3 separate regions of the Homo sapiens genome follow, and regions 1 and 2 are each linked to region 3. Evidence: fine-mapped expression QTL. A gene starts in region 3. Each other region holds a variant in brackets. All regions are shown on one strand. Distances are from middle to middle. Region 1 overlaps SLIT2 (slit guidance ligand 2). Region 2 has its middle 120 kb from the start of SLIT2. Region 3 holds the start of SLIT2 (slit guidance ligand 2).

The links. PIP is the estimated chance that this variant, and not a neighbour inherited with it, causes the effect.
Region 1: its variant is fine-mapped to the expression of SLIT2 in nasal epithelium (TOPMed, PIP above 0.99).
Region 2: its variant is fine-mapped to the expression of SLIT2 in esophagus mucosa (GTEx, PIP 0.97).

What each region holds. Positions count from the first base shown.
Region 1 is chr4:20,266,875-20,277,454 of GRCh38, forward strand. It overlaps SLIT2 (slit guidance ligand 2), which reads left to right. Exons shown (of 37, transcript NM_004787.4): 4 at 1,936-2,007. Among named protein-coding and RNA genes, the nearest start is that of SLIT2, 20 kb to the left of the region's middle. The variant G/A (reference allele first, on the strand shown) is at 5,735.
Region 2 is chr4:20,126,596-20,137,175 of GRCh38, forward strand. No RefSeq gene overlaps it. Among named protein-coding and RNA genes, the nearest start is that of SLIT2, 120 kb to the right of the region's middle. The variant G/A (reference allele first, on the strand shown) is at 6,139.
Region 3 is chr4:20,248,038-20,258,617 of GRCh38, forward strand. It overlaps SLIT2 (slit guidance ligand 2), which reads left to right and starts at 3,868. Exons shown (of 37, transcript NM_004787.4): 1 at 3,868-5,957; 2 at 8,635-8,706; 3 at 9,831-9,902. The coding sequence starts at 5,779. RefSeq lists enhancers at 4,984-5,782, 5,783-6,581.

The sequences.
Region 1 (10,580 bases), 19 kb after region 3:
TTGGAGAAAAGGAGAAGCACTTCATAAAGAGAACTGCCTCTGCAGGGCCCAGGGGCTTGCCGAGAATGCTTGCTCTGGCTAGAGAATAACAAATGAGGCTGGTAAATCTCGTGGTTTGGATTACATCATGAGAGCTCATTTCTGATGTTTTAGAAATTGGAATTGGCTCTTTGGACAATGGAGGTCCTTCCAAGAGTGGTTGCATTCCTAGAAAAAAATCTCATTACCACTGTTGCAAATATGTGTAATATATTTTTAGAGGGAAATACAACAAAGTAACAATCTGCATTTCATTGAAATTGTATAATGCTAGACTCTGGAAGTACACTGTCTTCAGAATCATACCTAACAGAGAACAAATAAATGAAAGCTTTTGATTTGACTTTAAATTTTACCTTGTTATGTGCTTCATTTAAAAAATTAGCGTGTAAGTGGGAAGTAAATTCACTCCTTTACCACTAATTTTACTATTTGCCTCTACTTGTCTTGGCATACTTTTTTTTATTAGTATGCATTTTATTAAGGCCTGAGAATGTTTCTGTAGATGATCAACTTCTTTCTGAGTTCACATAAAGTTATGGTGCCATCATTGCTTCATGGCATTTTTTAGAATGGAAAGAAGTTCTGAAGTTTACCTGGTCTCGCTTCTCACTTACAGGATTTTAAAAAATTATATCATTTTCCAAAAAAAATTCATAGCCTCTGCTTGAATACATTTTGAGATAAGCAGTTGAGAGTTTCCATTTCTTAATAGCTAATTCTTAGAAAGGTCTTCTGTATAATCAAATTTCTTAGGAGTTACAATCAAGGGGCCCATTTCTGCCCTCTGGAGACTAAATAAGTATAATTCTGCATCTACCCGATGACCCTTGCAATATGTCAAGATTGATATGCCCTCTTTTCCTGTCCCTTTTACTATTTATCTTTAAAACTTAAGAAATACCTCTGGTTTCCTCAGTGTGACATTACCTTCTGGAACTATATCCAGAAACTATACTATATAATATGCCTCTACTCCTCTCGAGCTAGGCAGCTTGTAAGTCATTTGAGTGCAAAATGTTACATCAGCTCTTTATCGTTTTATTTAGATTTGGGAAAAGCAGAGAAATAGACAGTTATTTTAAATTAAATGTTAAATTGTACACTGAAAACAGATGGGATTGGGATATGACTACATCACAGATAGTATTTACCCACTCTTTCTTTAATAGGTGTGCATACCAAGCATCAGGGCTTAAATTGAGTTACAGTTGCAATCACACTCTTTTCTAAAACATTTAAAACATTCCAATTTACTTAGACATTTTAAAACATTACTGAAACTGATTTGACACAACTGTTAGTTATAATGCTGAGCCTTAAATTCAGTTAAGGGTTGGAAGCTGTGGGTTGAGGTTTGAACTCTGGGTTGGTATTCTCCTGATTTTGCCTATGGGACAAATCATGCTGACAATTTCTCACACCTTTTTTTTTTTTCCTCCCAACTAAATGAAAAGCTAAGAAAGTTGAAATTTCCATCTCCCCACAATTCCTTGGCTGAACTTTTAGGCCAATTGGGACTGTGTATGGATTATTTTAGACACCATTCACTGTGGTATTTCTGCTGGATATTGAAGTCACCTACCTTAGGCGCCTAAGACTGAATCACAAAAATCCTTTATCATTGTGTGTATTCTGGTTGACTGATGTTGCACAGGATTTCAGTTTAAAGTTTAGACCCCAGTAATCATCATCTTAGTAAGCACAATGGAAAACTGCTGTAAAGAGTCATGTAACAAAAGGTGTAACCAACTTTTGATTTGCAATGCTTGAATTCTCCTGAATGTCATTTCATTCTTTTCTGAAATACAGGATGAGGCATGACACTACCAAATCACAGTCTCATTGTTGGGTATTTTCTATGTAACATAAGCTTTGTTTTTGTTTTCTCAAAAGGCGTTTAAACAGAAATCACCTTCAGCTGTTTCCTGAGTTGCTGTTTCTTGGGACTGCGAAGCTATACAGGCTGTAAGTAGACACAAATAGTTATTGTTGCTTTGGGTAGTACCTTGTGTTTTATTAAATGTATTTTGGATCTGTTTGTGTGTGCTTTCCTGGAATCTGTTCATCAATAGATTAATGGATTAAAAGTTTGTGTTTTTTCTTTAGGAAATTTATGATTTGTTTTCTAGTGGTTCCAGTTGTTTTATTTGGTTAGGATTTAGCGGTTTATGTATGTGTTATGGAAATTGGATTATTATTATTTTTTTGGTAACGTGATGATGGCGAGATTTACCTACCTTTTAATGGAAATGTTTGATTAAGTTCTGAAGGGAGAAAATTGCTACTGTTTCCTCTTAAGAGGAAGTTGGCAGTGTGTTCTTATAAAGTTGAGATTTTTAATGTCAGCTTTTTTGGTATTGTTTCTGGGCTCAAGTAGTCGTGTTTATTAGTCCGAAATATTATTATAAGGTATTTAAAGAGGGCTGTAAATTTCCTCTTAAATGTTTCCTTTAAAGCCACAATTTCAGCCTCTGCAATATGAATGACTGTATGGCAAGGTTTTCATATCAAATACGTCATAGACTATTAAAGGAAGTAATTCCTTAAAGGAGCATAATGTGAGTATTAGGGGGAATCACTTTTTCCTCCCTGGAATGCTTTTGCACTGACCTAATGTGTAATAGTGAAAACACATTTTGAAAGCATTTAAAATGAGATTTTCAGCCATATGAAATGACTTTGTGCAGATGGGAGATAAGCTACAAAGTTTTGGAAAAATAAATAGCAATGATTATTGAGGTATATGCATGTTGTGAAAAAAACTGCTGGAATGTATAGAGTAAATTGCTCCATTAGCCCCCACCTGGATGGTGGGTGTCCCATATGGTACTGTTTGTAGAGAAAGTGAGCATAGTTCCTTTTTCTGAACTTGTCTTTGTAGCCTACTAGTTCAATGTGGTTATCAATTCCAGAAGTAGGAGGACTGTCCTCTCACACCCTTCACCCCCAAGAATAGCCAGGATCTTTGTTACATCCTCCTGAAACCTTAACAACCTTAACTTACTATAGGGAGATATTCCCCAGCTGACATACCAGATCTCTCCAGAGTCTTTCCTGACTTTGTTCCTCTAAGGATAGCTAAAATCACCTGACATTTTTCTCTTCTTTTTTGTGTTCCCTGCTGCTCAATTGGACCAATTTAAGTAAATTTTAAAAATAAAATGAAGAAACCTTGGAATTGCATTTTTAACAAAAATTATCTAATAACTATTTTTACTTAGGAAATAGGGTGTAGGTTTGCTATAAAGATTATAGGTATGCATATCAGTAGATAATTATATCTAAATATTTGTGCTTAGTTTCTAAAAAGGGCCATAGAATTGGTTTTGATAGTATTTCACTTTCACCTTTAGTTATTGGTGACTGAGGAGATTTTTAAGGAATCGACTTGGATTAATTTCCCCCAGTTTAAGGTGGTATAATCCATTGCAGAATCCCTCATCAGCAAATTATATTCTCCTTGACATTTTGCCATCTTTGACAATATCTCATAGCAGACCAAGAGATTTTCTTTTATGTTTTGTTATGATTTTATAACTGTATGCAGCTGCTGTATGAAAAAAGACTTGAAATCTTTAAGTGAATTAAAGAAACAGAATCCATAAAACCTATGACAGCATTTCCTAATTAATTAAATGCGTGTTGGAAAATGGGGAAACAGGCAGCTAGAAAATGTGTTCAGATTTTTTTATGTGTCTTTCTGGCTCAAAGGATTTGTCCTGGGGAGTAATAACAGCTAAAGCAGTGTTTGTTAGGTGGAGCTAGTTACAAGAGGGATGTGAATATTTTTATGTTTCAGGAGTTATATAACTTGATGGCCTAGCACTCAATATTGACAAAGTGTATCCCTTTACATGAGATTTGACATCAGATTTAGGCACTGGATGTACATAGAAAACTAGAGGTGGAATTTTTATTTGCATCCTCACGTCAGGAATCTTAATTTGAGTTAAGGAACTGTTGCTTCATCTGAATTAGACTTAGGTGAATTGTTGAGTGCTTTTTCTCTCGAGAGAATAAGTTATAAGCTGCATGTGACCACTTGTTTATGATGGTGATAATTAATTAAATTAAACAACTGCCATTGGAAGTCTTTAATAAACAAAGGAACACGTGCTTGTGAAGCTCACTACTGGCTAGTGTAATTATGAAAAGCAAGGGTACAAGTTCACATTTTCTCACATGATACAGATGCCAAGTAGCTCACCTGAAACAAATATTCTAGCAGATGGGAAAATGTGCACAAACCTATATGCACAACATCCTTTATAATGCTCATTTAAAAACATATTTTTTTCACAAGAAGAACAAGTGACAGAACAAAGGATATGGAATTTTTGACAAATAATGGGGAAAAATGATAGGACAAGGAAAGTATTTGATAGTTGATATATATATGATCGTTTTATAAATATGTGTAAAACAATATATAAGTATTCTATAAATATATATTTATAGAATATATGTTTTGACATTTATATAATATATAATTATTATACATAGTATATATTTATATGTAATATAATATATAATTAATTTATATATAATATTTATATATAATTTATATTTATATATTATATATATATATATAGCAAGCCATAGTTGCCCCTACTGTCTAATGCAGTAGAGGCATACTATATGCAGAACTCATAAAAAAACAAATTTAGGATTTACTTCCTCTGTATAGGTTGTTCCGAGATACGAATTAATGTTTCAATTTCTTTTCTTAGTTATTGTATACTTTATTCATACTTAACACTATGTTTTCCCAGGTATATCACTAATAAAAAAGTTTACTGGTTTAATACATAGTTTATACACTGAAGTTTGATTTTTCGCATTGTTTGCTTAGATTAAAGCTAGTTGGATATACTGGACATTGTGTTGCTTTTCTTTGAGCTTTGGAATAAATAATCGCCCTTTGACTAGTGGTTGAAAATAAGATGCCAGGGGAAGAAGCACACATGCTTTTCATGGACTCTAAATGCAATATAAAAGAAAAGGAGGGTATACTGTATATGAATTATGATTCGACACACTTGGTTGCTGCTAGCGGCCAAATATGCTTTTCCTTTGCTGTCTGCTCCAATTTCTCTTTGGACGGGTTGAGAGAGCACTACATGTTCAGGTCAAGATGTTTGCTCAGAAATAGTAGTACAGTTGCAGCTGTGTTTGTTGGAGTAGGAGACTAGTTTAAATAGCATTACCATTTATCCAGTCCATTAACAGAACTCTGTAAAATAATACCAACTCTGCATAAACTACAGGACAGTGTAATAAAATTACAAGCACTTGTTGACAGATGGAAAGTGCAAGTCCAGGGAAACTAAAATAAGGGACGATAGGTTGGAGGTTAAAAAAAAAAAAAATAAGCCAGCATGAAGTTTTCTTAACTTATAGACTCTATCTTCCCCTTTGCTCCTCCTCCAAAATCAAGGTTGCATTTTTATTATGAACCTAAGAGTAGAGGAAATTATTTTTAAAGAAATCTGGAGCTGGTTAACTGAAGAAGAGATTGCAGGGAATTTTGAAACAGTTGATTATGATTGATTGAAATTTATGAGTACTAATACAAATCTTCCTGATAAGTGTAACCTTAAAAGAGGCTTAAGAGTAAGTGATTCACACTTTTTGATGAGTTTGCGACTACTAATCTGGACTCATTAAAGAGGAATTTCATTGGTAGTACTGC[G/A]GTTAGGCATTTGGTTATAAATATTTGTTTTGTGGTTTTCGGTTTATTTCTTTGAGTATATTATATTTACTGAGACTTCTAACGTAAGCTTAAGTATCCAAAGCACTTTTTAGAAACTCATTTTTCACTTTTATCTGCCAAACCAAACCAAAACTAAACAAACAAACAAAAAGAACTGCATCTGTCCCAGGGACTCATTTTCTCTACTTCTTTGAATGAAAACTTTTTACTTCTGGTTCTCAAGTGCCATTCATGATTCCCCAGTGAGTTTTGGAGCGACTAAATTATCTAACATTAGGAATGGTATTTTTAAGGCCAAAGACTCTCTTTATGGCCTAGTGAATACTTACCTGAGACAAATAGGTTTTGACTGCTTAATTTCATTGGCCAGGTCATAATTCATTATCTCTCAGATAGGATTTCAGATTCTCAAAATTGCTTTTGATAACTATAATAATTGGGACTTTCTTAAGAGGAAAACTTAATTTTTTTTATTAAGGTAATCAATTAATTTGTTCAGCATAACAAATATATATAATTAAGCTGTCTTTATTTTCCTTTCCATCACTGCCATAGAAGGAGACTTATTTTTTTTTAATAGTTATAAGAGTAACACATGCTCATTGTAAAAAAGATCTAGGAAATTCAGAAAAAAATAGAAAATAGGAAGTAAAAATTATCTATTATCTCACTACGCAGATATAGCCATTATTATACTTATCAATTATTATCTTAGAATTATTTTTATGATTATACATATAAGTGCTACTTAGACGTGTATTATGAAAACTTTTTTTTAATGTCCCCAGGGTCTAGTATAAGGCTTGACCTTTAGAAGCTCTCATCAAGTGTTTGATGTATTGAATTAAATCTCTGTTGGGTTCAGGGTTTGTAACTTGAATGAGCAAATAGTAACTCTGGGACGGCATTATAAATAATGGAGAACCAAATTAAATTTAAAGGATAACTTGGTCAATTAAATGTTTGATTCCCCTAGGTTTCTCAAACATTGAAGTGTTTCAGTAGACATAACACAATCAAAATGATCCATTTTTCACCTAAGCAAAATATACCTTAATTTAATAAAATGTTTTATAAAACGAACTCCCTAGTTCTTGGATGTCAGTTTAGTCTCATAGGTTTCTTGGAGTCAACCATGAAAGCAGGATACAACAGAGGAGCCCATGTACAAATTTCTCTTGAATTAATTTCTGCCAGCTCTGATTAAAGTGTGGACTACTAGAGATGTCAGGTGCCATCGTTTCCTGCTTCATTTTACTCTTGGCCTGTTTGGCCCCTGCCACAATAAATCCGACTGTGATTGTGCAGGAATTGCAGGTTACAGTTGCTACGGTTACTGTTGTTCAGCCAGACCGACATCATTACTCATCTAGCGCGCTGCCATGATAGCTACCGCTGATTTCTGTTGCTGAGACTGCCAAAGAGCTTCATGTGCTAAGGGTGAAAGTTCCGTCGAAGGTGGCGTCTGTGTTCTAATTTGGTGTAAGGAAACACTATCTGAATTATATACTGATACTTTGCTAAGGGGAACAGATTGACTCTGTATCGAGAGAGAAAACTTAGAAAAGTGTTCACTTTCAGTGATTAAAACACCAAGTCCTTCATTACTAAGGTAACTTTTTAATTACTTATTGGGCCCAAGGGACTATGTTTTTGCCACTTAAAAAATAGAGGCATACAAGGAGTATTGCATTTAAAAAAATTACCACTATTTAACCAAAACTTTATTTTCAAATAGATAGGCAACAGACTTGATATATGGACATCTGAACACAACTCAAAATAGCCATTACCACTTGTCATGAAAGAAAGAAAAGTGCAAAGCCCTGAGCAGGACCTACTTCTACTTTTATTTTTTAAATCAACGTGTAATCCTGTGATTTAAACGTCCTAAATCCAATGAAGATTAAGATCATATTTGAGATTTTGCCAGATCTAGTGTTGATGGTTTTTACTTCAAAGGAATTACTAATAGACTTGTTGCTAAAGAAAGCTAACAGTTGTCCGGTTTCTGCTGTTACCAACACACAGAGTGGACCTTCTGAGTGTGAAATCCACAGCATAGCTCATAGCATAAGAAAATCAAATGCAAGAATGCAAGAAAGTTTCTGTGTTTTTTTTTTTTTCACTCAGCTGTACTTATTTAAACGACTGCTTTCACAAGTGCAAATGTTTCTAACTCCACCAACAAGTACTTATGGACTGCCAACTTGAATTTGTAGAATACTATGATCAATGCTCAGAAGGGAAACTAACAAAATATGTGGCTCTATATAATATGTGGTATTTGTGGGCCTCAGCTGTTGCTAACGTCTGACCTATACTGCGTGAATTAATGCCTAGAGAGTTCATTGAGAGTGATCAAATATGTGAATTTCAGTCTATCATATTCATGTAAAAAATATATCGTATACACATAATCAGGTAATATTTTAAAGTTTTTAAATAATGAAATTGCCACTACAATCTCAAGGTTACAATTTTGGGGACTGAAATTTACATAAACATTATTTCTAGGAATAAGGGTTGGTAGGGTTTTAGTTATATTTAGGTAATTTTAATGTATTTGCTTTATGTTTTAAGACACTGAAATCAATTTACTTTCTATCTTAAGGGAGGTTGTGTAAAATGATAGTGTTTAAATGCCTACTCAGATACTTGCAGTTCTGTTAACTTTGGAAGTCAGTAGACAACCGTATTGTTGAGGTTTCTTATCTGTAAAATGGGAAGGATCATACAATTTACTTTCTGGGGATAGCACAGTAAAATTTAGATTCCATATTCAAAGGAACATTGTAAATTTTCAAGTATGATAGAAACTATAATTATATTATTGTCATCCTTTCATTGCAAGCAAGATGGAAATGATAGTCACTCAGATGTCCTTGCAACTTGCCCTCAGTCAGCAAAGTTCCTGATACTATTGCACAGCCCTCTTGCATTTATCCTTACTGTAGTAACACGTAAATATGTGTAGTCACATTAATTATCTTACCACAGCAAATTGACATAAAATGTGCATTTGTACCATGTTATTTCTCTTTACTTGGCTGCAGAAGGTACATTAGGGCCAGGATATTCTTAATGAGATCTCTTCATGCTCTCCCAGTTGATGATTCATATAGTTTTAAAATTCATCTATAAAATAAATTACAGATAGAAACAAAAAGACTGTGACTCAGGAACTATTTGTTAGTGCATATATTTAGATTGCTGTTTTAATGATGTGTTTTTCTGAATGACAAATGAAGGAAAAATACAAATGTTAGAAAATGCTGAGTAAACTCCTTAAACTATAGGTAAAGTATTCTGAAAGTTGTTCAGAAGATTTACATATGTTGCTAAGGAACACTTTCACTACTAATAAAAATTTTATTTTTTAAAATAATATAAGATTACTCTGTTAGCTTTGTAATATGTACATATGATTTGATCTATGGAACATTGTCATCTTTATATAAATTGCATAGGTGATTTTAAGTGTATTTTTAGACTACTAATTATGTCAAAATCCAGTAAAAATTGCAAATCTTTTAGCACTTTAAATCTAAATAATGTTACATTATGAGACAAGTTTGAACCAGAAGTCGTTTTGTTTTGTTCTTTTTTCCACAATTCCAGTACTTCTCAAAGTAGCATAGATCTATATGGTGTATATCCACTCATTACATGTTACCTATAACTGAGTTGATTATAATCACTGAATTTTTTCTGGAGGGTTAACCTTAAAATATTTTATAAATTTTGATATAAGAAACCTTTGGATGGAAGTTTTAAAAGAAACTAAATCTTAGAGAAGGAAGCAGTGAAGAGTAAAAAGACCAGTCCTTGACAACACCTATGGCCTAGGGTACAGCATAGAGGTGTGAAATGTTATTAAGAGAACATCTGTGTCTCTTGAAACATCCCCCAAATGAAAGTTTATAGCAAAGTATGGCAACTTGATTTAAGTGTTAAAAACAAAACAAACAAACAAACAAAAACTTAAAAGAGAAATAAGTAAATCTGGAAACAGAATTGGAAAAAATAGCTTTGCCCCATCATGATAGGTTTCTTCTGCTAGTGAAAGATTAAAGCTCGAAGTATGTGAATAGCTGAGAACAGCACAGAGAAAGGTTGATTGCTTCCCCTCCGACAGTTCCAATTGATTGAAAAAAGCCTAATTTAAAGTTCTGTTTGTTCTATGTCTTAAACCATCAGAATTCTCTTTTGGGACCTGAGGAATGCTCTGGAGGAAAAAGAATCCAAGGATAAAAAGTCATTGCAAGCCAACAATTGTTCCTAATCCTCACAAAATGCTGGAGAAATTAAATTTATTCTTTATTGCTCAAAGTGTTACCTAGGTCACTGGGCGATGGGAAAATTGGACTGGAAGTCGAGTAGGCGCAAGCTTTGTTTTGTGTCTAGATGCTTAACCTTAGACACGACAAGGCATCTTAGAGTGTTGTGGGAACTTGGTTCAGAGCATTAACACCAAGACTTTTATTACCCCGGATTTATAATAGGCTGTGCTGTCAGGAGATGAAAATGTTGTGTTTACATTTCAGTGTTAAATGATCATTTAATTAACACCTAAGGGGAAAAAAAACTTGTGAAATTCTTAGCAGCTTTTATTGTTGGTTTCCTGGGAGGTTTTAATATCCAAGTTTCATTGAGAATTTTTTTGTAAGTAAAGACACAAAAGACATTATAAACTTTTTAAGGAAGACAAACAGTTTAACCTTGACCCTTTAAAAAAATATTAATTTAAATTAAATTTTAAATCTGGTGTTCTTCTCATAAGTTTCTAGACTAATATATTAAAATACATTTTGATTGGACACTA
Region 2 (10,580 bases), 120 kb before region 3:
TAGCTTAATCATGAAGCTGGCAAAAAGATGGCCGCTGGCCTCGCATTCAGTCAAGACCCCATACACTTGTTCTTCTAGCCTTCTCTTGGGAATGATTACATAATTCTCAGAAGCTTCTTAGCAGACTTCTCCTTATCTACAGAAAGCCACAGTTCAGTCACATGAACATTCCTCACCCAATCGAAAAGAAGTGAAATTATCGTTAACTGGCTGAGACTAATCAAAGGGTAGAATAGATGCTGGGAGTCTGTCACAATGACCGCTACCTGTAAGCAGAGTACAAGTAAGGCTGAAGACCACCTTCCATCCACAGAGACACAGTGGAAAGCAAGTGGAGGGACTCAGTAAAGGGATGTATTAAGGGTTGGAGTTTCTCATCATCCCAGGCAACTTTCACATACACCAATAGCAGAAAGGGATGCGTTGATTCATCCCTACCATCTAGAGATCACAAGATCTGCCTTGCCTCACTTAATTCCATGTGAATTACATGTGAGTGTAATGAGATACCTTGAGTGCTCATCCTGTTGCTTCAGATTGTTTGCAGAAAAAGCATTCAGACTTTTTCTTTGTGGGATGATACAGAACTGACTAATTTAGGGAGTGGAGCATGGCCAAGCCTTTAGGTACTTGGTTGACCAGGCAGGCACAAGTCATGCAAAAGTCCTTTAAAATACACAGATAAAAATAAAATATACATTTACATTTTGAACATAATATAAGTGCCAACTGTTATGGACAGAATTGTATCCCCTCAAAATTTATATGTAAAAGTGCCAACCTCCAATGTGACTGTATTTGGAGATAGGGCCTTTATAGAAGTTATTAAGGTTAAATGAAGTCATACAATGGGACCCTAATTCAATAGGATTAGTGCCCTTATAAGAAGAAGAAAGGCCAGGGCCACCAGAGCTCTCGCTGCATGAGTACAAAGGAAATGCCATGTGAGGACAAAGTAATAAAGTGAAAATTCACAAGCCAGAAAGTGAGTCTTTACCAGAAATCAAATTTGTTGGCACCTTGATGGTGGACTTCTAGCTTCTAGAACTGTGTTTAAGCCACGTAATCCATGAAATTGTATTATAGCAGCCCAAAGTTTTCTAATACATCAACTTTCAAACAATTGAAGCATAAAGTCCACTAGCTAGATTTAAATCTGCTGCCTACAGATCTGAGCTACTTTGGGAGATAAACTAATGACTAAAGAAAATGTCATTACAAAGAGGCATTTGGTTGAAGAATTCCAGAGAAAGATTGCCTTATGATTCACATATGAAAATAATGCATTTTATTCACAAGGGAAAAAAACTGTTTTATGCTACTTTTGAAGATGACTTTGATTGTTCTTTTGTAAATGGATTGCTTTGTGGAAGGAAGGGAAGAAAAAAATAAGACAAATTAGATTATTGGGGAAACACAGGCAATAAGCAATGGTGGAAAGTTTCACTTCTGATTAAGATGTAGTAGAACGTGGAAGACCATAGGACCTGTGTTAACAACAAGGAAAAAAACTAACAAAATAGCATACTTTCCTGTAAATCTATTGTAGAGCAGTTGATTCAAAGAATCTGTAATAAGTTAAGGCCAAAAAGAGATGAAACATCTATAGGCAGACAAAGAGGCTAGGCATGGTGGCTCACGTCTATAATCCCAGCACTTTGGGAAGCTGGGGCAGGCAGATCACTTGAGGTCAGGAGTTCGAGACCAGCCTGGCCAACATGGTGAAACCCCATCTCTAATAAAAATACAAAAAATCTGCTGGATGTAATGGTGGGCACCTGTAATCCCAGCTACTCAGGAGGCCAAGGCAGGATAATCACTTGAACCCAGGAGGCTGAGGTTGCAGTGAGCTGTGATGGGCAACAGGGCAAGACTCCATTAAAAAATTCTCTATAGGTGGACAAAGAAGTGCAGATCTTCAAGAACTAGGGACAAGTGTCTCTTGTGAGTGTGGCTGTGCCCATGAGAGGCCCACCTTAGACAGGGAGACTTTACAATGACAAAGAAAAAACAAATGAGCTTTTCATGTCAGTATGGCTAGAAAGATAGATTAAAAATATGTGAGAGACCCAAATACAAAAGTAAATATTTCATCTTGGCAATTCCTTCAGCTAGAAATTTTGATGAAGAATACCAGAGAAAGCAGCAGTATTAGCAATGGATATGGGCTGGAAAACAGTGTTTGCATAGTCTCACTCAGTTTGTTCAGATTCAAGGGCTCTGCTGAAGGAGAATATACAAGTGAGCCAAAAACAACTAAATCTAGAACCCAAACCACTCCTAGCTCAAATCCTGAAAAGATCGAGGGATTAGACCCTCTGTGGCTACTGCTCTGAAAGCTGAGGGTAGGGCTAAAGGGTAAAGTGCAATCTCCACAATCCCATTGGAAATCAATGGTGAACACAATATAATTAAAACTTCAAGCTAGTTCTTGGTAAAATCTAATAGGGCAACTCTTCACCTTAGGTACCTGATGAAAGAAAGGGCTTTCAAACTGTAGGAGATAGAGATGGAGAGATAAAAATTTAATATCCATTTTTCCTTTAGATATACTGTATGCCATGTGGTCATGTGAAGGGATTATGAAGAAGTAGGAAAATATGGCCTATAACTAACGGCAAAATTAATCAATAGAAGCAAAATCGCAGATACTTCAGATCATGTAATTAGTCATCAAAGATTTTAAGAAAACTATTATAGAAATGTTAAATGTTTACTGTAAGATGGAAAGAATGGCTGCGGATATGAAATATTTAGAAGAGATATCAAATAGATAATAGAAAATCAAATTGATATTTCTAACTGAAAAGAACAACATAGGAAACAAAAATGAATTAGTTTGTTTTAGAAACAAATGAACAAGGCAGAAGGAATAATTGGTAAACATAAAAAGAGATTAATAGTAATTATCCAAATAAAAGTACATGAAGAATATAAGATTGGGGGAAAATGAACAAAGGATAAGATTTATTTTTTAAAAAATATTACATTAGCAAACATACATGTATGTAATTTGAGTTCTAGAAAGTGAGAACATAAAGAATGAGCAAGAAAACTATTTGAAGAAATAATGACGAAAAACTTGCAAAATTTGACCCAAAACCTTAACTTACAGACCCAAAGCCTAAGGAAACACAAAGGAAAATCAGAACAAAGAAGTTCATACCTAGGTACATCATAGTCAAACTTTGGAAAACAAATATAAAAAGTCTAAAAGCAGCTACCAGATAAATAAGACACAGTGCATACAGAGCGGGGGGAACCAGACGGCAAGGGAACAACATCTTTTAAAGTGTTGAAAGATCAACTTAGAATTCCATACCTAGTGAAAATATACTTCAAAATGAGGATGGAAGAAAGAAATATTCAGATAAAAATAAGTAGATATGATTCACTTCCAGTAAACCAACACTGCAACAAATGCTAAAGGAAGGCTTTTAGGCTGAAGTAAATTGCAAATGAAAACTAATGTCTAGAATAAGGAAAAACAATAGTGGTTAATATGTGGGAAAATATAAATACTTTTTAAAATAAGATTTTAGATAGACTGTTGGCTTTTAAAGTTAAAAAATATATTGTGTAGTTTATAACACAGAGAAGTAAGATACATGAAAGTAACAAGACGAAGAATGGAGAAATAAATAGAATTATCCTGTCACAAGTTCTCACTTTATTTGTGAATTGCCATTATGTTAACTGACAATAAATAGTGATAAGTTAATAATGCACATTATGATTGCTAGAACTAATAAAAGTAAAATAGCTAAATACATAAATTTTATATAAATAAAATATATATATATGAATATATACAAATATCATAACTAAAAAGTTAAAAGCCAGAATAAACTGAAAACGAAAAATAATTCAGACAAGGTTGTAATAGTGACACAATGCATTTGTCAAACACATAAAACTTTGTAGTACAAAGAGTATATGCAAATTTAGAAAAGTATCATTGAAGAAGCTAGACAGTCCCTGGAAGACTATAGAATGTAATAACAAAAAAAACCAAACTATATTACAAATGTATGAAACGATCATACATTGTTACTCAGGTGCTGACCTAAGTAACTTTAGAAATGAATGCAATCTGCATAATAACAATTTTTATAACCCATACATAAGCATCATATTCTAGTTGATAAAGTTATCACCCTCTAGGATATAAATAGCAAGATGATAAAATTAAACCTAACTGTGCCAAAATTTATCTCTATGGTAAATGGATAAAATACATTCATTAAAAGGCAGAGATAACAATCTTATAAGTTACTATTAAAAAGAATAAAAACAAGCAATTGCATAATGTCTAAAAAGATGCACTTTACATATGAAGACTTAAACAGTCTAAAAGTAAAAGGATAGAAACAGATATATCATGCACATCCTCATCATAATGAAATGGGAGAGTTCCCTGCTTCCCCTCTCAGAACATGCGACAGGAGTGTGGCTCACCTGTGTTTGCCCCCACAGCTTAAACCTCTACAGGAAGGGGAGCACACAGACAGGCATGTGCAGGGACCAGGGTAAGTGCTTTTGGGCTCCAGCCCCACGGCAGTGTATAGAGGTGGGTGTCTGCGACTCCCAAAGCCCAAGTGGGTGTGTGTTACAGTGTGCTCCTTTAGCTTTGCTGTCTGCAGATGGCTTGTGTGTTAATCAGCTCAATGTACCTTCTGCCTTATTGCAAGGGAAGGGGTCCAGTGTGACAGTCCTCTGTATCCCGAGCTCTTGCTAGTGTCCTGAAAGAATCAGGGCTTGAAGGATGAGTGCAAGGTTTTACTGAGTGGCGGAGGTGGCTCTCAGTGAGATGGATGGGGAGCGGGAAGTGAGGATGGAGTGGGAAGGTGGTCTTCCCCTGGAGTAGAGCTGCATCATTCCCCTGTAGCTGGTCTGCTGGTCCACCGGTCTGCTGGTCTGCTTGCCTCTTCCTCTCCTCACTTGTGGGTCTCATCTGGAACTTGGAGTTTGCAGTTTACATTAGGGCAGCATAGGGGGCACGCAGGCCAAAAGGCAACTTTTTGGTAGCAAAAACAGAAATGCCTGTCCTCATTTAAGGCCGCAGGTCTTCAGGCTTGAGGGTGGAGTCTTTGCTGGGGAACTGCCCTCTTATACTCAATATTTCCCTCTCACGTCCATATCAATAAGATAGTATATATGGTTATATTAATCTTAGACAAAGTATATTAAATACAAGTAATATTACCAAAGATAAAGAAGTATATTTCACAATAATAAAACTATTAATCATCAAAACAATGTAACATTTTTAGTGAATATCCACCTAATTACAGAGCTTCAGAGTACTTGATACAAAAATTGACCATAACTAAACAGAGAAATAGACAAATCCACAACTACTTGTGGATTATAAGTGATTATAATCATTTATGGACTATCTTGACAGTCATTTCTCAGTAACTGAGGATATAATTAGACAAAAGAAAATCAGTTACAATTCAGAAGATTTTAATTTGATATAAATTATGTTTAAAAAACACTGTACCCAAATTTGGGTGACACATTCTTCACAAGTGCGCATGGAACATTCATTAGATTAATTAAATGCTACTTTCATAAAGCAAATCTTATTAGTTTTGAAAACCATATGATGATGAGTAGAAAAATGATTTGACAGAACTTAACATCATTACAGATTTAATCTCTCTCAAATAAGACTAGAAGGGAATTTACTTAATCTCATAAAGAGCATCTATGAAATGCCTATAGCAATTGTTGTAGTGAATGGAAAAATACTATTTCATTTTAAAGATCAGGAATAGGCAAAATATACATATTCATCCCATGTAGTTTGCACAGTACTGGAGTCCATGCCTGATGAAATAAAGAAATTAAACAACAAAAAAATGGAAGGTAAGAAGAAAGACTGTTTTAGTTCACATATGATATAAACATGTATATAGAAAATGTAATGGATTTTTAAAAATGTATTAGGACATATATAAGAATTCATAATGTTTGCAGTATACAAGGATGATATAAAATTTAATTGTTTTTACACATCAACAAAGAAATAAAAAATAAAATATAAAATACTGTTTACAATGTCATAAAAACAAAATTGCTATTCCAAAATTTTTTAATCACCTACAAAAGCTGATGATTTATATATAACTA[G/A]CAGCTACAACTTAGTTATAACTAGTAGTATCTAACTATGTAAAATGTGAAAGGACTTCCTTCAGGCTGACACAGTTTTGATCAGATGGAAATATAGATTTTTACAAAGGACCAGAGAGACCCAGATATAGTGATTATGTGGTTATATTTAAATGAGATTTATTTTAAACACTTAAAGATGTTTTAAAGTTACATGGCTTTTTAATGTAAAGTGAATATCAATGCATTGTGAGGTTTATATCATATGACGATATAAAATGTGTGGCAAGAGTAGTGTGAAGACCAGGAGAAAATAAATGGAAGAACACTATTGTAAGATTCTTATACTGTATGTGAAGTGGTATAGTATCACTTGAATGAAAACTCCAAAATATAGTTCACGGTTTATAAACTGTAAGCTAAAGGTGTAAGCTATAAACCCTAGAACAAATACTAAAATAAATCAATGAATATTTAAAGCTAATAAAGCACAAATAAAATTGAATCATACAAAATAAACTATATAAAATAAGAAAAGAAGCATAACATGCATAACAAAAGAAAACGTATGGAAAATGAGGAATAAGTTTACAATCAAATTTAATCATCACATTAAATATAAGGGACTGAACACCCCATTTAAAAGGCAGAGTATTTCAGGTTAAATATAAAAGCAACACTCAATTGTGTATTTTTTTATTTTTATATAGTATATATTTATCCCCAAGAATCCCATTTTAAATATAAAGATACAAATAGGTAAACAGTAAAGGATGTCTACAAATTAGATAGACAAAATGGAAAATTCCTAGAAAGACACAAACTAACAAAATTGACTAAGGAAGAAATAAATAATTTGTATAGACTTACAGCAAGCAAATACTTTGAATTATAATTTTTAAACCTTCAACAAAGAAAAAAACCTAGACTCAGATGGTTATACTGGGGAATTCTACCCAATATTTAAAGAAGAATTAACATCAATTCATCACAAACTCTTTCCAAAAAATAGGAGGAATAATTTTTCAATGTATTATATGAGGCCAGTATTACCCTGGCACCATGACCATCCAATGATATCACAAAAAAATACAAACCAATATTATTTATGAATATACACATAGAAAAACTAAATACTAGCAAATCAAGTCTGGCAACATATTAAAAAATATTACGTGCCATGACCAGGTGGGATTTATCCCTGGAATGCAAGGTTGCATCAAATAATTTGTATAATATACCTCATTCATAGAATAAAGAATAAAAATTATATAATCATCTCAATAAACACAGAAAAACGTTGATAATATTTGTCTTTTATGATAAAAATACTCAACAAACCATTAATAGAAGGTACTCCCACACTTACTAAAAAGTTGGTGTACAAAAACTCCGGAGCTAACAACATAATTAATCAGAAAGAACTTAAAATTTTCACCTTAACATCAGGAATGAGAAAGATATGTCCACCACTCTCAGCACTTCTATTTAACGTTATACTGATGATTCTATCCAGGACAAATAAGAGGAAAGGCAGAGCTGGAGGGGAGAAGGAAAAGGGAGAGAAATAAAAAGAGAGGAGGAAGAAGAAGAAAGAAAGGAGAAGAAGAAGAAAGAAGAAGAAGGAGAAGAAGGAGGAAGAAGAAGGAGGAGGCGGAGAGGAAGAAGAAGGAGAAGGAGGAGGAGAAGAAGAAGGAGAAGAAGGAGGAAGAAGAAGGAGGAGGAAAGGAAGAAGAAGGAGAAGGAGGAGGAGAGGAAGAAGAAGAAGGAGGAGGAGAAGATGAAGGAGAAGGAGGAGAAGAAGAAGGAAGAAGAAGGAGAAGAAGAAGAAAGAGGAGGAGGAGGAGGAGAAGGAGGAGGAGGAAAAGAAAAGCATCAATATTAGAAAGAAAGGAAGAAGTATATCTCTCCTTGTAGACGACAATTACTTTTATAGAGAAAATCCTACGGAATCCACAAAGATGTCACTAGAATTAAAAAAAAAATCAGCACATCCAGTTTGCAGAATACAAGATTACTACACATAACTCAATTGTGTTTTTATACCTTAGTAATGAACAATAAAATTTTTAAAAAAGTTCTATTTGCAATCATGCCAATCATAATAAAATACTTAGGAATACATTTAGCAAAATAAGTTCAAGACTTGTACCTTGAGTACTAGAAAACATTAGTGTTAGAAATTAAAGAAGGCCCAAATAAATGAAAAGACAGTCCCAGAAGACTATTCTTAAAATGACAATATTCCCAAAATTGATCCAAAGATTCAGTGCAATCCTTATAAAAATTCCTTCTGATGTCCTTGCAGAAAATGCAAACAGATTGTAAAATTCATATGGAAATGCAAGGGATTCAGAGTAGCCAACATAATCTTGAAAAAGAAAAACTTGAAGGATGCGTACTTCTTGAAGGACACATACTTCTTGATGTCAAGGCTCTGGCAATCAAGAAAGTGTAGTGCTGGATAGATATATGAATACATGGAAATGAATTGAAAGCCCAGAAATAAATTCTTCTATTTATGGACAGTTGATTTTCTACAGAGTTAAAGTTTTATTCAAATATTTTGAATACAATAATTCAATGGGGGAAAGAGCAGTCTTTTCAACAAATGGTTCAGGAGAAGGCCAGAGAAAAACAAAACCACTGCAAACCCATAGCCAGAAAGGAAAGGAGCCAGAGGAATAAATGATTTAACTTTACTCTCCTCCCATCCTCTTATACCACTAGTACCTTGTGATCTTCAACAACCTGCCTGAGTTCGAGGAACACAGTTGATGCATCTCATGAAGAGTTGTCACCTTTGAACATAGAGTATAAGAAGTCAATACAGGGTAGGGCTAGAGAAACAAATTAAGAAAATTGAGAAATTAAATTAGGTTACATTAGTCCCATTCTGATAATCCAGGATAATCTTCCCACTTCAAAGTCCATAGCTTTAGTCACATTTGCAAAGTCCCTTTTGCCATGTAAGGTAACATATTAACCTTATATGTTAAGGTTAATGTTAAGGTTATATGTTAAGGGCATTTTTGTAGGACCAGCATTTTCTCCACAAAATGATTGCATGTTAAATGATTGGAATGATTGTCTGTTGAATTATTCTTTTGATATAATGCAATTTAAATAATAATTGTGCTACACACACACACACACACACAAAAACCTGTACACAAATGTTGATGGCAGCATTATTCACAACAAAATCAAAGTGGAAATTACGTAGATATCCATCAACAGTTAAATGAATAAATAAAATGGGGTATGTCTATACAATGTCATATCATTAAGCAATAGGAAGTAGTGAAGTACTGGAAAAACTTGAATAAACCTTTGAAAGATCATGCTAAGTGAAACAAGCCAATCACAAAAACACATTCTATGTGATTTTTTTTTATGAGGTGCCCAGAATGAACAAATGTACAGTGAAAGTAGATTGTTGGTTGCCTATGGCTTAAAGGTGGGGTCTGGGAAAAAATAGGAAGTGACTACAAATGGATACAGAGTTTCTTTTGAGGTTAATGAAAATATTCTAAAGTAAATGAATTATATCTCAATAAAGGTGTTATAAAAGAAGTTTTCCTGACAAACTTAAACTATTGTTTAGTGTTAGTGGTCAGGAGGTCTCCTTTAGGGGAGAAAGAAAAGGGGAATGGTCAAAAGGAGTCCAAGGGAGGCTGTTAGTATATCCACAATGTTTTATTTTTTTACCAATTGGTCTTACATGATTGTTCACTTTGTTATGGTTTACTGAGCTGTATATTTATGATTTATGTACTTTTCTGTATCTATGTTACACTTCAAAATAACATGTATAATTTTTAAAAGTAACAATAAGTGTGTTTTTATCCATGACAAAAATAAATAACTATTGTTTGGAAGTGTTATAATAATGACAGGGAGAAATAAAAAATTAAGGAAACAAAAATAGGCAGTAAATTGGGAGACCCAAGTCTGAGTGGTATTAAAGGTTACTTTTAGCTTTCTTGCTTTCAGGCCCACTTTGTTTTTTAACAGCAAGTAGACTGGATTTAGGTTTGTGACATTGGATATACTTTTTAATACATTGAATCTGAGATGTCTTAAAGACCTCCAATCGACGATGTCAAATAAGACGTAATGTACATGTTGAAACTTGCGGAGACATATGGTTTGAACTTTTTGACAACTCTGTATCCTCCTCCCACCCTCTACATGTCCGAAGAATGCTGCTCTTTATGGGATCCCTACACTGTACCTCTTGACCTCTGGGTGGGGTTGTCCTGGCTGAGTTTGTCCTGTGGGAGGTACCAGAAGATGAGAGGTAGAAGGAAAGTAGAGTTCATACTTAGGACTGATAAAAGCTTCCAGCCTTTACTAGCTGCATAGTGCTTTAGCATCTCTTTTAGGTTTCTCTTATCCCTACTCACACCTCTATAAATAGTCCTTTATTAAATTCTCCCTAATTGGTCCATTGGAGTGTA
Region 3 (10,580 bases):
AAATAATATCTTAATTTTCACAATAATCATGAGAAATAGGAATCAATGCATCCATACAAAAGTGGTATTAAACTGGAAAAAATCCCTATAAATATAACAGATTTTTTTAAAGGGTTGAGGCATATTCGGGCAGGTTGCTGATGTAATAACTAGGAAGCCCTTTCCACTTCTGAAGGCCATTTCCTTGGAAAATAAAACTAAAGTCTTATTGCCTCTGCGGAGCTGTACATCAAAATATTTTGGTGCCCCCTAGAGGTAATCAGTAATGTGCAATTGTCAACCCCCAGGAATGAGAAGCTGAAGACAATTCAGCAGCTGTTATCTATTATTCTTTGCTGCTTCATTCTCCGTACCAATGTGTCACAGATACAAACACAGAGCAGCTCTTGAGTAATGGATCTCAAATTTTAGTGAACATCAAAATCTCTTGGAGGGCTTGTGAGAACACAGCCTTCTGGCTTCTGTTCCCAGATTTTCTGATTTTGTGGGTTTGAGTTAGGGCCTGAGAAGTTGTATCTCCAACTACAGTCCTGGCGATTACGATGCTGTTGGTCCAGGGACCACATGCTGAGAACCACTCACCTAGAGAATCATCTCAAAGTCAAAGCTATGTCCAGAAGCAGGTCAGGTTTCAGTATCCTTGAAGTGCTGGTGCTGAGGACTCTAGCTCTTTACTGCTCCCTGTAGATGCCCTTAAGGAGTGTGTGCAGAGACATGACCATCTCCTGTATGAGGGTGATCATTCCTGAGGATCTATAGATTCCTTGATCCCCACGAGTTCCAGTGGATCTACAGATAAACAGTTGGGTGAAGAAGAATCAATTGAGAATTGAGGTCAGAGAACTTAGGTTCTGGTTCTAGCTCTGCCATTTAATAAGCTGCGACTTGCATGAAGACCAACATCCTCTACTGTAAGGAGTGAAATAGCAACCATCACTGTGGATGTAACTCTGTCAAATAGCTTGGAATTTAGTAGGCTTGAAACAAATTTTGGTTAAATCTTAATTTCCATTATATTAGGGTTCCATGTCTACGTTTCCAATACAAAGATATTGTGAGAAATATCAGATAATTTAAATGAAAGAAATATCAAATAATTAAAATGAACACATTGCAACAATGGAAAATAGTAACATGAAGGCAGTTAAATTCAAGGAATTAAGTTTCATGAATTTGATCAATGCAATTACTGTTACCTACCTCTGTTTAAAAAGACAGAGAACAATAATTTTTACTCTTCTTTATCTCTTTTTCGTAAATTCTCTTTTCTTCCTCCCTTTTCCCATATAACCCAACTTCACAACCTTTTTATTTCAAAAAAATGCAAAGTTTATTAGACATTTAATAACCTACACATTATTCTGATGCTTTTTATTTCTTTGCTGCATAGGTGATTGTCTACATTGTTTCCAAATTATTGTACGAACTGGATTTTTTTTTTTTTTTTGCAAGATAATAGGAGACTCGGATATTGGCTATAGTGGATTCCACTTCTGCTTAATCCAGGTCAGGATTTATGGAGACCTCATGTGGTGACAAGAGGCACCACAGAAGGCTTTCTTCAGGCTGGGTTTAACAGTGAAAGAGAAACTCAGAAATTCATATGGGAGCAAAATAATCCATAAAGAATTAAGACCTAGAAGTTAATGTTTCTGAAGCCTGCAAGGCCTTCAACAAACATCCTGCAGTAATACTAATGGAATAATACAGTAATATGTTAAAGGACAGGAGACCTGGTTGTTTATGTATGTATAAAATTCCCCTTATCAACTAAAAAGTTAATAACGCAAAAAATAGTAAGATATGCCTCTCAAGAATTAATTACAGTCTTTCTTTTTTCTGAATGAAATCCACTGAACATAGCTTCTTATTTAAATTGGCTTCAAATTTTAAAAAGATGTTTCTGTAGGCATGTTGCTATGTATGTTAGTTTCTCCTTGGTTTTACACAAAACAGAAAGTGATCAGAGATAGAATGAAACTTGAACTTATGTCTGTGAATTTCACTTATGCAACAATATCAATAATATTATTTATAAATATTTGGAATGCAGGATATGTTCTTGGAATTAAAATATGGAACAACAATTCTATGTGGTGCACAAAGTTGAACACAAACACCTCTTGTTGCTGACAAGATATTAAAGTTGTGAAATTAAATAAATTAATGTATCAGCAACCATATTTAACCACATAATTTACTGGTACACACTAAGGAAAATTCACTGAGGGTTGGGGGAGCTCCTTCCTCAATGACAGGTACTTGTTCTTTATCTCATTTTCCTTACAAGAAAATGTGACAAGGGCTTCTTTTTTCTCCTCCTCAAGGAAGTTACATAACAGACCTTTAAGCTAAAATCTAGAAGGACAAATGAGTTAATAAATGTCAAATGTTTTTGAAGGTTTTAAAAGAATAGAGCAATATAAATCTGTGGCATTAAAATGAGTAATCCTAAGAGTTCCAATTCAGTTATCAGATGGTACCCTGCCTTTGGGCGTGTCCTCGAAAAGGCTTACGTTTTCCAAGGCAGGCAAAATGAGGTAAGTAGGGGTAGCCATTATGAAAGGACATCTTAGAAAATGTTAACCAGGAAAAACGTTAATGAGGATATTGCAGAGATTTTAGGTTGAGCATACTCTTGAGTTAAAGAAATCGGTTACTTATGAGGAAACCTATTATGTGGCAGGCATAGATGCTGGAAATACAAAGAGTTGGACAGGTCTTGCTTTCAAGGAAGCTTCTAATAATTATACAAATAACTACTACAATATGAGGCTGGTATTAGGCGGGGGCTTGCACAAATTCCAGGGAAAGCTTCTTAACGTGGAAATGGGAGGAAGAACAACAATATGATGCATATTAAATCCAAGAGAAGGAGCAGAGTCATTTAGATGTCATTTCAAACTTACAGTGACATTGGCTCTTGCTGGGGGGGAAAGGGGGGCGAGAGAGGCAGCCGTTGCCAGACATACGTCACACTAAAGAGACAAGATGAAACAAGGAAATTCTCTTTCAAAACATAGCGGGGAAAAAAATATCCAGAACTGCCCTGAAATAAAGAAAACCTTCTGGTATAATGTGCGTTGCTAGGGATTTATTTTTTCCCCTCCTTTCTCTCATAAGAGAGTAAAAAATCACACAGATACGTTCAAGCCCTTAAGAGTTTTGTGAGCCTATTGAATATCCAAGACATCAACTGACCACGGTGTGGTTCAGTGTGTGTCTACAAAGGAAGGGTTAAACGGAAGGGGGTGGCTTGGAGATAGAAAGGCAAGCAAGAAGGTTGGAAAATGCTGTTTTCCAACTTGCAAAAACTGAACTTTTCAGCTCCCCAAAATACACGTGTGTGTCTGTAAGCGCAGGCAGATCTATTTCGGTAGGATTTTTCTTAAATTTAAATCATAATTTCTCTGTTTCTGTCTCTCTGTCTCTTGCTGCGCTGCAAAGAGTGAGCAGCCCCCTTAAGGATCGCGTGGCAAAAGCTGCAGGAGAGGCACTGGCAGGGCTGTTTATTTATGAGCCGCGTTCAAAGCCGACCTCTTCCCATTCTCCCACTGCAAACGACTATCTCCGAGCCCAGGTCACCTCTGGGGCCAAGGAGTTGGGGGCTGGGGCTCGGGTGGCTCCTTCTTCGGGCCAAGTTTGCCCGCGCGTGGGAGCGAGGGGGCGAGCCAGGGCGCACGGGAACGCGCGCCGCCAGCCGCCGCCTCCGCCCAGCGCTGGCAGCCCCGGCCTCACCTCTCCCCTCTCCCCAGCGAGGTGCGGGCTCCCAGAGCGGAGCCAGGGGGCGGGCCTGGGCCTCGAGGGGCGGGGTCAGGGGGCGGAGGCTCGGGCGGCTATATAAGGCCCGCGCCGGCTCAACTTCGGACTTGGTGTTATTTATTTGGGAAGCGCCCGGACGGCGGAGCTTGGCGGCGGCGGTGGTGGTGGCTGCCGCAGACTGTGGTTAAAAAAAAGAAGGCGGCGGCGGCGGCGGCGGCGGAGGCGGAGGCAGCTGCGAGGCATGGGAGCGCCGAAGCGCCCAGGCGCAGGCCGAAGCTGCCGCGCTTTCTGGGCACGGCGGGAGTGCTGAGCAGAAAGGGGAGCGCCGGGGGCCCGCAGCCGGCTCCGGAGGCGCGGGCCGGGTTTTTGTTTGGCTACGCTGAGCGCCAGTCAGCCCCAGCGAACAACTCCAGTTACGACAACAACCCACCTTCCTTCCAGACAAGCGAGACTTGGGCTGCTGCGTCCGTCCTATTGTTTAGACACTTGCCAGGGGCTCCGGAGTCGGCAGAGCCACCGAGTCCCCGCTCTGAGTCGTCGCCCTCCCTCTCCCCGACCTCGCTCCCTGGAGCGGGAGGCCAGGAAAGCAGCGGGAGAGGGGAAGGGGCTAGAAGGAGAAGGACTACCCGGGACTGCGGCCGCCGCGTCAGGTGCAGCGCCAGGAGCCGGGCGGCGTCGCCACGCCGGCAGGGGTACCGCCACTGTGGCCTTGGGGGACGGAATTCAAAGCCTGGGAAAAGTTGCTGCACTTTGAGAAGGACGAACCACTAGTGGGAGACCGCCGGGGGCCGGCCGTGGCTCTGCGCCCTCCGGAACCCGGCTCTTGTTTCTTCTACCTTTGCCATCAGGTGTCTGCCGCGGAGCTGCGGCTTATCTGGGAGACGAGCGGGGTTGACACGCGCGCACACACTACTGCCATTCAGCTGCCGCCTGGCTCTGCCTGGAGTAGTGGATCCCACCCGCCCACCTGCCACCGAGCCATTCTCCAGTACGCCCCAGCAGGACGCTGACACCTCCAACCTTGGCCTTTGCCTTTCCACTCCTTCCGGTCTGCCTGGTTTTTAAGTCCGCCCCCAGTCAGTCCCCACTCAGTCTTCGCAGCAGCTCTCATCCTCCACTTGGCCTCTTGGAGTTCCTCGCCGGAGTGCTGACTAGTGGATATTTCTGCCCGGCTGCGGCGGCCCGACTGCCCTTTTGTCTTTTCTGCGTGACCTCGGGGCAGGTCCTGGTGCAGAGCGTCGCCAAGGACGCCGAGCGGGAGGCGGGATTGCCCAGACATCCTTCAGCGAAGTGCATGTGTGTTTGTAAACCATCGTTGGCTGTCGGGAGACCGCGAGGACCGGTCCAGGCTGCGGCGGAGTCGAGGGCGAGGGAGAGGCCGCGTGAGTGAGCAGAGTCCAGAGCCGTGCGCCCCCAGAACTGCGCGTCCGCCCCGTGCACCCCCGCGCGCCATGCCCAGTTGCCCCGCGCGCTCTGCTACGGGCCCGCTGGGCTTCCGCGCCTTCTAGCTTCCGGAGCCCACTTTGATCGGGGCCATAATACCTATTGAGATCCCCTCTTCTGTCTTGTACCTTCGCCACTGGCATCGGATTTGCAGAAGCGTGCGTGGGATCAGAGGACCGCCCTCCCCACAACAACCGGCCCCTGCATCTTAGCAGCCGTTGGAAGCCCCAGCTCTTTTACCGCCAAGTTCATCCTTGGGAGACAGAAGACGCGTGATCTCCTCTCCGCTGCTCTTGGGGTCTCCTTGCAGCCCTGGCCAGGCGGATTCATCCTCAGGACCTAAAGTTGCCCAAGGAGCTCCTGCTCTGCCAGAGGAGGGTGGAGAGGGCGGTGGGAGGCGTGTGCCTGAGTGGGCTCTACTGCCTTGTTCCATATTATTTGGTGCACATTTTCCCTGGCACTCTGGGTTGCTAGCCCCGCCGGGCACTGGGCCTCAGACACTGCGCGGTTCCCTCGGAGCAGCAAGCTAAAGAAAGCCCCCAGTGCCGGCGAGGAAGGAGGCGGCGGGGAAAGATGCGCGGCGTTGGCTGGCAGATGCTGTCCCTGTCGCTGGGGTTAGTGCTGGCGATCCTGAACAAGGTGGCACCGCAGGCGTGCCCGGCGCAGTGCTCTTGCTCGGGCAGCACAGTGGACTGTCACGGGCTGGCGCTGCGCAGCGTGCCCAGGAATATCCCCCGCAACACCGAGAGACTGTGAGTATGCGCTCTTCGTCTTCCCCTCTCCCCATCCGGGCCGCGCACCCCTGCCTCCACTGGAGGAACCTGTCAGCTCAGGGTCCTGTGCCTGGGGCAGCCCTCGCTAGCTCTCCCCCATGCACATCCTGGGGTTGAGCTCTCCGGGAGGGCACTGGCCAGGGAAGGGCCTCTGTCCAAGGAGGGGCGGGTCCGCTGGCAGCTGCGCTAGTTCTCCCTCCCCTGCTCTCGTCCCGCCACTCGCAGCTCCTTGCTGGCTAGTTCTCTGGGGCTGGGGAGCGGGTAGATAGGGGACAAGTACTGGAGGATGCCCGGGGCAAGTGAGACGCCACTTTGTTCTCCAGAGTCCATAAACGGAGTCACCTTGCGATTGCCAGCATCCAGGTCGGTTTCAGAGCCCAGTCCTCGCTCTTGTCGCAGGCTGGCGCGGAGGGGATAGCAGGGAGACTCAAAAGAGAGAAACTTGCCTTCCCCGATTTTTTGTCACCCTCCTGGGGGCGAAGGTTAGGAAGAAGGGGTCATGGAGTGCCTGGGGGTGCTTCTCACAGGTCGCGGGGAGAAGGGTGCCCCAGGACGGCGACACCTCGCATAGTAGCCTCGCGCAGCCCCCCGCCCCCCACTTCTCCGGGGAGGGGAAGACGGCGTCAGGCCCCTAGGGACTTGTCTCAGCGGGCGACTGCGAGGGAGGACCGTGTCCCATCCGTTAAGCGAAGTTAGCACTGGTTCTCCAGCGCAAACCAGCCCAACCAGGTCTTACCACTGCGGCGACCCGGCGGTGCCCGGCTGCCCCCTCCGGCCCTTCCTGCTGAACCCCTGCGTCCCCATCCACCTTTCTGGCAGTTTCTGCGCCCCTTCACGTGGCAGCAGTTCCCCTGCCTTCCCCTCTTCGCGCTCCGTTGCTCGCAGACGTCCCCGCCTCCCTGTCTTTGCGAGTCTCTAATGAAGAAGTAAATGCAGACCCGGTGTTGACGGCCCACGCGCTCCTGATGAGGCGCTTCCAGAGTTCAGCGAAGTGGAGCATGGAGGCCGTTCTCTTTGTGAACGCCGAGGCCGCCGCCCCGCGCCAGTCCGGCCGCCCTAGGCACGTTCCGCTCTCGCGGTTGCGTGTGGGCCGGGAGTAAGCGAAGGGCGCGGGGCTAGGCCGGCAGGGGCCAGCGCGTCTGGATTCGTCCCGCGGCCTCTTTGCCCCCGGGGTGTAAGGGTTTCGGGCCGTGGAGAGGAGGCGCTCTGACCCGCACGTCTCCACCCGCGCAGCCCATTGCACTTCAAGTCGCCCTTCTTATCCAACCCATTTCTCTCGCCCTTAGTTTTAAGGCCCAAGTTGAGCCACCTTTTGCTTTGCAAATGGCTCTTCTACCCCCAGCCTCACTAGGTTACCCTTACTCCTTTCTCACCTCTCCGAGCTGGCCAAATCGGGGCTCTACTAGGGGTGCCTTGTCAGGATTCGATCCACATTTGTGTAGGGTGGTGGGTGGAGATTCGTGTTATATCGAATAGCCCAACAATTTTAGGAACAACTGAATGGTACTCTGCTTAGCATGGAGAAGTGGGTTGAGTAGAAAGGAAGAGAAGCCACGCAGAATTCTGTTTTAGCACTTGTCATTTCATGCTATTCAGAACAGTTTAAAGTTTAAGCACGAACATGTCTTACTCAACAAAAAGGGAATGCACTTGGGTGGGTGGGGGTGAGGGGGGAGCGTAGCAATTGAATTTCAGGTCCTTGAAAAAATATACATCCTTATGAGGGATGAACAAAAAGTTTCCAGAAAATAGTTTACTGGGTGCTGACTTGTAAAATTCTATCATTGAAACAGTTTGAATACAGATTTCAAACATGATGTTGTAGAGTCAAAGGTGATATAGAGCTTACTTCTATGAAGAGCATTCAAACCGCAGCAAAGCCTGGTTTTACTTGAAGTGATTGGAACCAGGGCAAGTTTAGATCTTGACCTGAAATGCCAGAAAAGGAGATCGTGACTCCTGAAGGAAAAGTGCTGCAGAAATCTGAACAAAAATGTCAGGGCCTGAATACTATTTCCATTCTTGCCCCTGTTAGTAGTTTTCACTTTACAATCACAGCGGGGTTCCCTGAGCTGCAAATGAAGAATTAAGTTTTAATACAAACAGAATTGTTGGAAGGTAAATGCCTATGAATGCAAGTCTTTGAAGTGCAGTTGTTTTGATGGCACTAATTTTTTTCTGTGCCTTAGGAAGTTTCGCCACCATGCTACCTAAGGACAGTGTTCTGAATTTTTATAAAATTTCTTCCTGAATAGCATGAGAAAATTGGGCATTTAACCTCCTGAAGGGAACTTTTTTTTTGGGGGGGGTGCCTAACAATTATAGTAAAATAGCAGAATACCTGTGAAATTAATATACAATCCTTACAGAAACAAAAATGGAAAGGACTCTCCCATACACAAAACAAACGAAAACTTTTTTGTGATAATGTAACCACTTCATTTTCTTGTCATATGCCAGCAAGAATGAACCTTGTAAATGTGTTGAGTCATGTTAAAAATATCCTTTTAAAGGTTATCCTCTTCTCCTTCCTACATACTTTGTATACTACTTTAGTAATTGAATTAACTTTTAGTTCTGATTTACTCTAAACTTTACTTGAAGCAGGTAAACATAGAAATAAAATGGAACTTTCACTTTCTGGTTTTTCTCTTAGGGATTTAAATGGAAATAACATCACAAGAATTACGAAGACAGATTTTGCTGGTCTTAGACATCTAAGAGTTCTGTAAGTGCATCCTCTGTATTTTTAAATAATTTTTTAAGGTTGCATATTTTGAATCATTACTGGCCTCAGTTTTTATGACTATTCTGATGACAGTAACATAAAACATTTAAAAGGTCATGCTTTCCTTTTTTCTGTGTTTATCATTGTACTACAACATTTAATAAAAATTGGGGCTTTTATTTTAAGGTTGGAAGCATGCCATAGAACCAATAATCCAGAAATGACCTCAGATCTTTGTTATACCATACCCTAAGCGCTTTATGCATATAAAAATGTTGAATAATTGTTTTCACAAAATGAATAAGTAATAAGAAACATTTGATACTTTTAGGATTTGAAATTAACTAAAATATTTAAGTGGATCTGTATTTTATTATTGATAACAAAAGGATTCTTATTTTTTTGCGAAAATCTAATATCAAGCATTAAAATCAACCATTCAAATTTTCAGCAGAGTTTATAATGATACATTAGTCATATTTTGAGTTTTTATATTTTGTGTCTTTGTAGCTTCTATAAAATTGTTGCAATATGATTACTTCTTTAATTAGTGGGTTAAATTAGCTGTGAGTAAACCACCACTTGCGAGTCAATGTAATGTTAAATTGTTCTCACCCACAGGATTGTAAATATTGACATCCCAGTAGCCATACAGTTTTGACCATTGTGCATTCAGTGTTCTAAGTTTTAAGAGACACATTTTGGTCATTACAAATTATTCCAGTTGCTGATGTGTATCCATGTCAGAATTGAAGTATGTATATGATGAATTACTGTATTTTGATTCTTTGGTTAAGTTGAAAACCAGTGTATCAAAGAAAGCTATCAAAGCTTCAGTGTCAAGGATTACTCTTCAGATATACTATTAGTTTAAGGGTCAGAGTTTTGACCAGTAAATCTCATGAGAAACTGCATTTGTATTAAGTTTTGTGATGCAGACACTGCTATTTCCCTTCCATGAGTTCACTCAGATATATTATTATTAAATTTGATATTGGATCTCAAATCAGAGCACAATTTAACTTTATAAAGGGAAAGAGTTTACAAGTTTTCAGTTGCTGAATTGAAATTTATTCAGATGGTGAGTGGTAACATTAAGAAGCATGTTATATTTTGCATTTCAGTCAGCTTATGGAGAATAAGATTAGCACCATTGAAAGAGGAGCATTCCAGGATCTTAAAGAACTAGAGAGACTGTAAGTATTTTCAATTCCAAAGTTATGACAACATAACTGTGTTTTTTAAAAATACTTAAATTTCAAGCATCATGTCTTCAATTTCATGTCTTAGGGTTTGAAATTTTGCAGAAAAAGGAGGATGAATGAGTGGTTTTCAGGTTAATTTATGACAAATAGAGTTCCTGAATAAAAAGTTCTAACTTGTAATTAAGCTCAAAAATACAGTTACTTTCCTGAGACATGTATTTCCTTGATAATCATTGCTTTGGTACTTAAAGATGTACAAGCATTTCTTATTCTTCATTTGATTTGTTTTATTTGCTCATGTAGGAAGAAAGGTGGTACTTTTATTTGCGTTAATGGTGCATTAGGGAAGAGAGAAGTTTTGCTAATTGTTATTTTCATTTTCATGGTGGTGCTTTGTGTGTTATCAGTGACATTTGATGAAATATTTTATATTTTACTAATAAAGATTTACTTTTTTATATTTAGCGTGGTGAACATTGTTATTGTTAATAATTACTTTTCAGTTTTATTTTATTTGGCCCTAGCTTTAAAAATATTTATTCTGGAAAAATAATCTAAACATTATGAAAGTAAGAACTGTGTTATCAAATTGTGGTCATTCAAAGTTGGTTTTCTTCCCAAGAAGATTAAATGTAGACTTCAGATTTTAAGATACGTTTTTTACATATT